2 separate regions of the Homo sapiens genome follow, and region 1 is linked to region 2. Evidence: fine-mapped expression QTL. A gene starts in region 2. The other region holds a variant in brackets. All regions are shown on one strand. Distances are from middle to middle.

The links. PIP is the estimated chance that this variant, and not a neighbour inherited with it, causes the effect. A credible set is the group of variants that fine-mapping cannot tell apart.
Region 1: its variant is the best candidate, but not a certain one, in a credible set for the expression of TMEM98 in hippocampus (GTEx, PIP 0.82).

The regions. Positions count from the first base shown.
Region 1 is chr17:32,963,371-32,968,742 of GRCh38, forward strand. No RefSeq gene overlaps it. Among named protein-coding and RNA genes, the nearest start is that of SPACA3, 26 kb to the right of the region's middle. The variant A/G (reference allele first, on the strand shown) is at 2,350.
Region 2 is chr17:32,925,573-32,930,944 of GRCh38, forward strand. TMEM98 (transmembrane protein 98) reads left to right here and starts at 2,581. Exons shown (of 8, transcript NM_015544.3): 1 at 2,581-2,665.

The sequences.
Region 1 (5,372 bases), 38 kb after region 2:
AATTATTACCATCCCTACTGACAATTAGGTCACTCAATAACAAATGGCAAAGGAAGGGTTTGAGCTCAGCTCAGACTTGGCATCAAGGCTCTGTAATCTTCCACTTTGTAGTGACTGGAGCTGTTGAAATGATTATTCCAGTGTAATCTTTTTTTTTTTTTGGACAGAAATATTTCTATTAAGGATGGGTCAGAGGCCTAAAAGCAGGTCTGTCTATCTCCCTGCCCAAGTTCTTTCCACTTCACTAGGCTGCCTGTGAAGCCTGAGATCCATCACCGCCTCTTGGAAAGTTGTGACATCATGTAATTCTCTTGGCTTGAAGGCCACTCTGTCCCACTGGCTGTTGAATGAAGATGCTTGTCAGTGAATTACAATTTTCTTTAACATTTTTTCCATGCTAACCCATTATGATGGTTTTTTAAGGAAGACAAATGTTGATTAAGCATGTACTATGTGTAAGGCAATTTCACACACATTATTCCCTTTTTCTCCTCATGCCAATATAGGAATGGTGCAGTAGGAATAATTATTCCCATTTTACAGTTGAAGAAATGGAGGTGACAATACACCCATTTTAGCTTATGGAGACTCAAAATACCATATACAAAATCAGCAGGTGGGTGAGTAGGGGGCACAGCTAGAGGATGATGGCATTAGGAGGGGCCACATGGATCATCAATGTGAGAAAACATTTTAAATGATCCATTTTCAAGGCATGATAAATCTAAGTACTGGCAGCCAGGCTGCAAACGTAACAAACCACATGTCTCATGCACCTAGAAGGTCACCATAAGTGAATAGAATGTAGAAGAGGGGTCAGCCCATAAAAGGGAAGAAAGTTTTGTTATTGGGAAATTGAAACTTAAGCAGGGGAGGAGACCAGGGCATAACCTTAGAAGGGAGATAATGAAACTTAGGCGATGTCTAGGAAGATTGTAACCCCATAGTACTCAACCAATGAGGAACTGGGGGGAGGATTTGTGTGCTAGGAGATAAATTACCTGTTGTAACTGCCCTGGGTGTGCCTGCCTACCAGACACCTGATCTTGCAAGTCCACCATTAAAAGTCTCGCTTCCGCTGTTCTTCGTGTCTCTGAGTCCATTCTTCGGGTTTGGATGGGTGAATGTATGTTTCTCACAAACCTGGAGGCCCATCTGGGATCTCTGTGCCTGCGTGGAGTAAGACTCTGGGTGAGAGGGGAGATGTGTCCCACCTGATTTAGGTGGCCTGCTCTGTCCGGGCGCCCCGGCTCCCTGCAGAAGCCATAGACAAACTCGAGACTGTTACTCAGGAGGCAGTGGAGGTGACAGAGGGAGAAAAGCAGGCACTGTGGCAACCAGGCAAACTTGTGCATGAGCCAAGGTAGAAAATTGGACTATAAGTACTGCCTTGGTGGTTGGGCATTTTCGGAGGTCAAGTGTGTGTGACTGAGAGGTATCTTAGATACGAAGCGAGTGCAGAGTCCCAATCCGCAGTTCCATTCTCCTGCAAGGGAAATGGCCGGAGATGGATGAAGTGATTTTCGGGGTGTGCAAGAAACCTCCAATAGAGGGGGGTTATGTACACAAGGAAACTCAGACACAGAGACTGACCAAAAATGGGAAACAGAAATTCTAGGCCAAGGGGACAAAGGAAAGAGGGAATCAAAGACTCTCTCTGACATTCCCTGGATAGTCTTTTGGGGAGAGTGCTGCAGGTTTGGAGGGACAACTCTCGAACCAGGGACAAGGAAAAGCAAAAGATGAAAAAGTATTGCTGTTTTATCTGTCCCAAGGACCCCATTTGTAAGCCTTCAGTCTTTTGGCCTAACTTTGGATCAGACGAGGACTGGGTTTGCCAAGTTTTAATTCTCTATGTGAATGATAAAACCCCATACTGACGAGAAGAGATAGGTTACACTCTCTGATGGATCATGGAATTAGCCCCCATGTTCCCCCTCAAAGAAGAGAAAGAGCCTAGTAAAAAGTCCTCACCCAGGGAAAAGCCCTGGGACCCCCTACCATGCTTGCCCCTTCCATACGTCTCAAAAAATAGGGGACAGGAAGATCAAGGGGCAGGAGGAAGGTTAGAGGAAGAAAGACCTGGAGACCATGGGGGAGCTGAACCAACCTCTCCTTTAAATCTTTATCCAAATTTAAGTAAAGAATTAGAACAGTGTAAGAGGCTATGTGTGTCTCTGCATGTGAGATGGGTCTCCTGAATACAGCACACTGATGGGTCTTGACTCTTTATCCAATTTGCCAGTCTGTGTCTCTTAATTGGAGCATTTAGCCCAATTACATTTAAGGTTAATATTGTTATGTGTGAATTTGATCCTGTCGTTATGATGTTAGCTGGTTATTTCGCTC[A/G]TTAGTTGATGCAGTTTCTTCCTAGCATCCATGGTCTTTACAATTTGGCATGTTTTTGCAGTGGCTGGTACTGGTTGTTCCTTTCCATGTTTAGTGCTTCCTTCAGGAGCTCTTGTAAGGTAGGCCTGGTGGTGACAAAATCTCTCATAGGCTCAAAATAAAGGGTTGGAGGAAGATCTACCAAGCAAATGGAAAACAAACAAAAAAAAAAGAAGCAGGGGTTGCAATCCTAGTCTCTGATAAAACAGGCTTTAAACCAACAAAGATCAAAAGAGACAAAGAAGGCCATTACATAATGGTAAAGGGATCAATTCAACAAGAAGAGCTAACTATCCTAAATATATATGCACCCAATACAGGAGCACCCAGATTCATAAAGCAAGTCCTTAGAGACTTACAAAGAGACTTAGACTCCCACACAATAATAATGGGAGACTTTAACACCCCACTGTCAACATTAGACAGATCAATGAGACAGAACGTTAACAAGGATATCCAGGAATTGAACTCAGCTCTGCACCAAGTGGACTTAATAGACATCTACAGAACTCTCCACCCCAAATCAGCAGAATATACATTCTTCTCAGCACCATCTCGCACTTATTCCAAAATTGACCACATAGTTGGAAGTAAAGCACTCCTCAGCAAATGTAAAAGAACAGAAATTATAACAAACTGTCTCTCAGAACACAGTGCAATCAAACTAGAACTCAGGATTAAGAAACTCACTCAAAACCACTCAACTACATGGAAACTGAACAACCTGCTCCTGAATGACTACTGGGTACATAACGAAATGACGGCAGAAATAAAGATGTTCTTTGAAACCAATGACAACAAAGACACAACATACCAGAATCTCTGGGACACATTTAAAGCAGTGTGTAGAGGGAAATTTATTGCACTAAATGCCCACAAGAGAAAGCAGGAAAGATCTAAAATTGATACCCTAACATCACAATTAAAAGAACTAGAGAAGCAAGAGCAAACACATTCAAAAGCTAGCAGAAGGCAAGAAATAACTAAGATCAGAGCAGAACTGAAGGAGATAGAGACACAAAAAACCTTTCAAAAAATCAATGAATCCAGGAGCTGGTTTTTTGAAAAGATCAACAAAATTGATAGACTGCTAGCAAGACTAATAAAGAAGAAAAGAGAGAAGAATCAAATAGACACAGTAAAAAAATGATAAAGGGGATATCACCACTGATCCCGCAGAAATACAAACTACCATCAGAGAATACTATAAACACCTCTATGCAAATAAACTTGAAAATCTAGAAGAAATGGATAAATTCCTCGACACATATACCCTCCCAAGACTAAACCAGGAAGAAGTTGAATCCCTGAATAGACCAATAACAGGCTCTGAAATTGAGGCAATAATGAATAGCCTACCAATGAAAAAAAGTCCAAGACCAGATGGATTCACAGCCAAATTCTACCAGAGGTACAAAGAGGAGCTGGTACCATTCCTTCTGAAACTATTCCAATCAATAGAAAAACAGGGAATCCTCCCTAACTCATTTTATGAGGCCGGCATCATCCTGATAGCAAAGCCTGGCAGAGACACAACAAAAAAAGAGAATTTTAGACCAATATCCCTGATGAACATCGATGCAAAAATCCTCAATAAAATACTGGCAAACTGAATCCAGCAGCACATCAAAAAGCTTATCCACCATGATCAAGTGGGCTTCATCCCTGGGATGCAAGGCTGGTTCAACATATGCAAATCAATAAATGTAATCCATCATATAAACAGAACCAAAGACAAAAACCATATGATTATCTCAATAGATGCAGAAAAGGCCTTTGACAAAATTCAACAGCGCTTCATGCTAAAAACTCTCAATAAACTCGGTATTGATGGGACGTATCTCAAAATAATAAGAACTATTTATGACAAACCCACAGCTAATATCATACTGAATGGGCAAAAACTGGAAGCATTCCCTTTGAAAACTGGCACAAGACAGGGATGCCCTCTCTCACCACTCCGATTCAACATAGTGTTGGAAGTTCTGGTCAGGGCAATCAGGCAGGAGAAAGAAATAAAGGGTATTCAATTAGGAAAAGAGGAAGTCAAATTGTCCCTGTTTGCAGATGACATGATTGTATATTTAGAAAACCCCATCGTCTCAGCCCAAAATCTCCTCAAGCTGATAAGCAATTTCAGCAAAGTCTCAGGATACAAAATCAATGTGCAAAAATCACAAGCATTCCTATACACCAATAAGAGACAAACAGAGAGCCAAATCATGAGTGAACTCCCATTCACAATTGCTTCAAAGAGAATAAAATACCTAGGAATCCAACTTACAAGGGATGAGAAGGATCTCTTCAAGGAGAGCTACAAACCACTGCTCAATGAAATAAAAGAGGACAAAAACAAATGGAAGAACATTCCATGCTCATGGATAGGAAGAATCAATATCATGAAAATGGCCATACTGCCCAAGGTAATTTATAGATTCAATGCCATCCCCATCAAGCTTCCAAGGACTTTCTTCAGAGAATTGGAAAAAAACTGCTTTAAAGTTCATATGGAACCAAAAAAGAGCCTGCATTGCCAAGACAATCCTAAGCCAAAAGAACAAAGCTGGAGGCATCATGCTACCTGACTTCAAACTATACCACAAGGCTACAGTAACCAAAACAGCATGGTACTGGTACCAAAACAGAGATATAGACCAACGGAACAGAGCAGAGCCCTCAGAAATAATACCACACATCTACAACCATCTGATCTTTGACAAACCTGACAAAAACAAGAAATGGGGAAAGGATTCCCTATTTAATAAATGGTGCTGGGAAAACTGGCTAGCCATACGTAGAAAGCTGAAACTGGATCCCTTCCTTACACCTTATACAAAAATTAATTCAAAATGGATTAAAGACTTAAGTGTTAGACCTGAAACCATAAAAACCCTAGAAGAAAACTTAGGCAATACCATTCAGGACATAGGGATGGGCAAGGACTTCATAACTAAAACACCAAAAGCAATGGCAACAAAAGCCAA
Region 2 (5,372 bases):
TGCTCTGGATAATAGTGGCCATTTTTTTATTGCCTTCTTCCAAACTTATGGAATCACTTCCTTTGTAGTAATTAGCAGAATGTTTCAATTCATCTCCATAATGAACATTCCTGACAGCATAAGTATCCACCCCCTGAAGTTCCTGTTAAATCTTTTAACCATATTCATTTCCTTTCACATAGAGACCATCAAGCTTCAGATGATCATGTGACAAAGTTTCCAGTCAGTTCCAAGTGAAGACACCACCCCTGGCCATCAGGATGCCACACTGTCTCCACTAGACAGAGTAGGGCAAGAGTTCCATGATCTCCAGTAGGTAGGAACTACGCCCCAAGTTGGCATAAAGCAGTTACAGTTCCTCTGCATCCCATAAAGATTTATGGGGGTCATGTCTCTCAGGAGAGAGATGAGGCAGGAGAATAGGGTCTGGAGGCAGGAAACCTAAGGGTTCACCTGACTTCCTAGAACTAAATCAAAAGGAAAACCCCAACTTTCCGCACCTAAGTAACAAACGGACCAGAGACTACTCCCTTTGCAACCCCCACTCCCCACTTTCTGCTTGGCAGATGGAAAATCTTTTGAAAGTACCTCTGATTGCCTTTCCGCAACCAATCCTGCGTTTGCATAGAAGTGTAACTTTGTAACTTCACTTCAGCCTCTGATTGGTTGTGGAAAGCAACCAGTCAGACTGATTGCGGCCAAATATTCTTTTGCATAGGAGTGTAACTTTGTAACTTCACTTTAGCCTCTGATTGGTTGTGGAAAGTAACCGATCAGACTGATTGCGGGCCAAATCTTCTTTTGCATAGGAGTGCAACCTTTGTAACTTCACTTCAGCCTCTGATTGGTTGCTTTCCACAACCAATCAGACTAATTGTGGCACCACTTCATTTACATGGGGTGAACGCCAAGTGGCCAATGGGAAACCTCTAGGAGGTATTTGGACCCCAGAAGATTCTACAGCAGGGGCTCTTGAGCCCATATGCAGGGGCCTGCTCCCACCTTGTGGAATGCACTTTTGTTTTCAATAAATCTCTGCTTTTGTTGCTTCATTCTTTCTTTACTTGCTTTGCTTGTGCCTTTTGTCTAATTCTTTGTTCAAAATGACAAGAACAGGCCGGGTGCGGTGGCTCATGCCTATAATCCCAGCACTTTGGGAAGCTGAGGTGGGTGGATCACCTGAGGTCAGGAGTTCCAGACCAGCCCGGCCAACGTGGCGAAACCCCGTCTCTACTAAAAATAACAAAAAAAATTAGTGGGACGTGGTGGCGCACACCTGTAATCCCAGCTACTTGGGGGGCTGAGGCAGGAGAATCGCTTGAACCCAGGAGGCAGAGGTTGCAGTGAGCTGAGATCGTGCCATTGCACTCCAGCCTGGGCAACAGAGCCAGACTCTGTTTCAAAAAATAAATAAATAAATAAATAAATAAATAAATAAAGGCAAGAACCTGGACACCCTCCACCCGTAAACAGCCAAGACTGTGCCACAGCACTCCAGCCTGGGCGACTGACTGAGACTCTGTCTCAAAAAAATTAAAATAAAACAACAAAAGTATGAACCAAAAAAACCACCTCTGTGGGCTGGATGTGGCCTTGGGGGTACCAGTTTGCAGACCCTGTGTCAAGCGGCCTAGGACCCAATCTGTATCCTTTGTTAACTGTCACCGATACTGACCTCAGACCTGGACCACTGGGATCCTGCCCTGAACCCCGTGCTTTAGTTGGCCCACTCCAGCTGGAGCGTATGTTCCCTTCTAGATCATGCTCCTGGTACCCTGGACTCCGGAAATCCCTGTGTAAACAGCCCTGAGCCTGCTTCCAAGGTCTGACTTCCATCCACCCAGGGCAGCCTGCCCTGCCTGGCCTGAGTATCGTTAGAATGAAGGATGGCAGGGTAGGGGGTGTGTGTTTGCCTGAACCAGTAGACCCCCTTCAGTATGTATGGGATGGAGTCGTGTGGGAATAGAAGCAGCAAGACTACTAGCAAGGGCTCTGCATTTGTACTCTTGCCCCTGGCTAGGCAGTCGCCAGGGGTGGGCCTGCTTCTCACTGACCCGTGGGTCAGGCTGTAAATAAGAGCGACCCTCGATTCACTCTTTACCCTGGGCCAGGCAGTCCGATGCATCCTGCATCCCATCATTCCTAATACCAACTCTGAGGATGCTGACAAGCAGCAGCCCCGTTTTACAGACCGAGGCACAAAGGCTGAACTAAGTTGTCCATAGCTAGTGAGTGGCAGAGGCAGGGTTTCAATGGGACAGTCCGTGGCGGAGCACACTGGCTCCGCCGCCAGCCCCCCTGCGGTACCCATCCGCGCTCGCCGCCTGGGACCGCCAGCCCGGGGCGGGGCGCAGGCAGGGACCCTCCGCTCCCCTCTCCGTCTGCCGCCCGGACGGGCCACCGCGGGGGCGCGAGGAAGGGGTGTTGGGTCGCCAGGGCCCGCCTCCCAGCTGCCCCGGCCGCCGGGGGGCCTGGCGGTGACGGCGGCGCCTGGCGGCGGGGATTTGGCGCGGGCCGGGGGCCGGGGGCCGGGGCGCGGGGGCGCGAGGCTGGATTCCTAGGGCCGCGGCGCTTCCCGGCATGCTCCGCTGCAGGCCCGCGCCCGCGCCCGGACTTTGCCATCGGCGGGGCAGTCGCGGGATGCGCCCGGGAGCCACAGCCTGAGGTGGGTGAGCCCCGCCGGGCCGGGCGGGCCGCGGCGAGTCGGGGAAGGGGACGCGGGGGCGCGGGGCCTGGCCCGGCTGCCGGGGAGAGGGGAGGCGGGTGCCGCAGCTTTGTTCTTGCCGCGGGGCCGCGCGCCCGAAGTTGGGGAAAGGAGTAGGAGCCGCGCCCCGGAGCGCTCCGGGGCCCGTGCGGCGCGTCCCGGGCGGGCTGGGGGTCCCTCCCTCCCGGGGACAGAGTGGGCGTCCTGGGTGGACGAGCACGGGGAAGCGGGTAGGGTCTTGGGTCTGTTCTGTCCTTGTGGTTCTGGAACCGGAGGGGAAGGGGGAAAGTAAGGGAGAGAGAAAGAGACGGAGAAAAACAGGAAAACTTACTCTTCAGTACGCAGGGAAGAATAGAGAAAGAAAAACACAAAGAAACGCCACGCAGACTGCAGAGAAGGACCACGAACACACGCTCCGAGAAACACACTCAGCTCACACGCACTGAGAAGCACACTTAAGATAAACACTCAGGTCACACACACAAGCACACTAAGAAACATTCAGTTCACACACACTCAGAAACACACGCACTCAGAAGCACACAAGATAAACACTCAGCTCACACACAGAAGCACACTCAGAAACATTCAGTTCACACACACTCAGAAACACACGCACTCAGAGGCACACAAGATAAACACTCAGCTCACACACAGAAGCACACTCAAACATTCAGTTCACACACACTCAGAAACACACTCCGAGAAACAGTTCACACTCGCTCAGAAGCACACTCAGCTCACACACACAAGCACACTCGGAGAAACATTCAGCTCACACACACTCAGAAACATACTCTGAGAAACACAATCAGCTCACACCCACTCAAGCACACTCAAGATAAACAGCTCACACAAGCACATTCAGAAAACACTCAGAAACATAGCTAACACTCAGAAACACACTCTGAGAAACACAGCTCACACACTCAGAAGCACACTCTGAGAAACAGCTCACACACACAGAAACAGAAAAACAGCTCACGCACACTAACACAAACACACACGGAGAAACACACTTAGAAGCACACTCAGCTCACACACACCCAGAGAAACACGATCAGAGAAACACTCAGAACGCACAGGAAGAGAGAGGAAACCAAGTGGGTGGTCTTGGAGGCCTGGGGACCGGGGGAGGGGAAGGAGAGACACTGAGAAGCGGGAGACGGGAGCAGCAGAGGGAAAGATGCCTGGAAAGAGAAACAGAGATAAAGGCAGACATAAGAGGAGGCAGAAAACACAAAGGCCAAAAGGAGGTGGTTAAAAGGACAGTAAAGAGAAACACACACGTAGAGAAACAGAGGCGGACCCTGAGAATTACCCCCCTCCCCCACCTACCTCTCACAAAATCAGCGACACACACAGAAGAGGCAGATGCCAGCCTTCTCCTTCTTGTGGTCCAGTGAGCTCGAGATGGGAGAGCAGCTCTGTGAGCCCTTTGAGAAAGGCTTCCTTGGCACTTTAAGCCAGGCATGTCCCAACCTTGTCTACCTGGCAAACTCCTGCTCATCCTTCAAAACCCAGCTCTAGCCTCACCACTCCTGTGAAAGTGTCAGTTCCCAGAAAGTGTCATGCAAGCACAGTTACTCTCTTTTCTGTGTTCTTCTGCAGGAAGCACAGGCACATGGAGTTGAAGTGGTTTGTCACCTGTCTGCCTCTCCCACCAACTCCTTAAGATCAGGGTCTCTGTCCTATCTATCTCCAATCTCCAGTGCATGATGCATAGTAGATGATCAATAAATACTTAGTGAATGGTGACCGAGAGCGTTTGGACCCTCCGAGACATGGAGGATAGAATTAAGTGCAAATAGAGGAAAAGCACCCTCCTGGTATTCTAAGGACTCCTAAGTCAGAGTGTCTTTTTTTCACGTGGGGAAATTAAAGCCCAGAGAGGGGAGAATGCTTGCACAAAGAGAGACAAGCAGGAGGCCTACAATGAAATAACAGTGAATATGTACTTCTGTGAGATGCCCTTGTTCTTCTGGCTTATGAGTTTAAAATAGGTGTGAAAGACCCCGTTCTTCAGTTCCTCTCTCCAGAGGCAGCTACTGTTATCAAGTTACATTTTATGTGTGTTTGTGCCTATCGATGTGTTCATACTAAAAAAATTCTGTGCACTAGTATATACAAATGCACGGACTTCTTTCATTCTTCTTTTGTACACAAATAAAAGAATTCTATGAGAAAAAGAAATAGATGTGAAACAGTCTCCTGAGTGAAAACTGGCAAGAGGCAATGGACACTTTAATGCCAGTTCTAAGTTTCCAACACTGAAACTGGCAATTAGAACTCTTTCCAGAACCTTTACAGTCTTCTTTCTTCCTTAGAAAGGAAAAGTAGAGTGAATGTCCATCTCAGTGTAAGTGGATGGCTTTCCATCTCCTGACTGCATATTGGAAAAATTCTGTAACCTCCCTGAACCTCAGTTTCCTCAACTGTAAAATGGGATTACTAATATGTCCACTTCATAAGATTGTTGTTGGAAAAGTTAACAAAGAACCTGGTGCAGAGTAGATCCTCAGTAAATACAGTTTCATCTTTCCTCTCTTTAATGGGTGTTCTTTTGTGCATGTTTTTATGGCTGCGAAAACAACTGCTAGTTAAAATGTTTCCTTTTGTCTAGGGTTTAAAAAGCTATTTTAAGGCCGGGCTCGGTGTCTCACGCGTG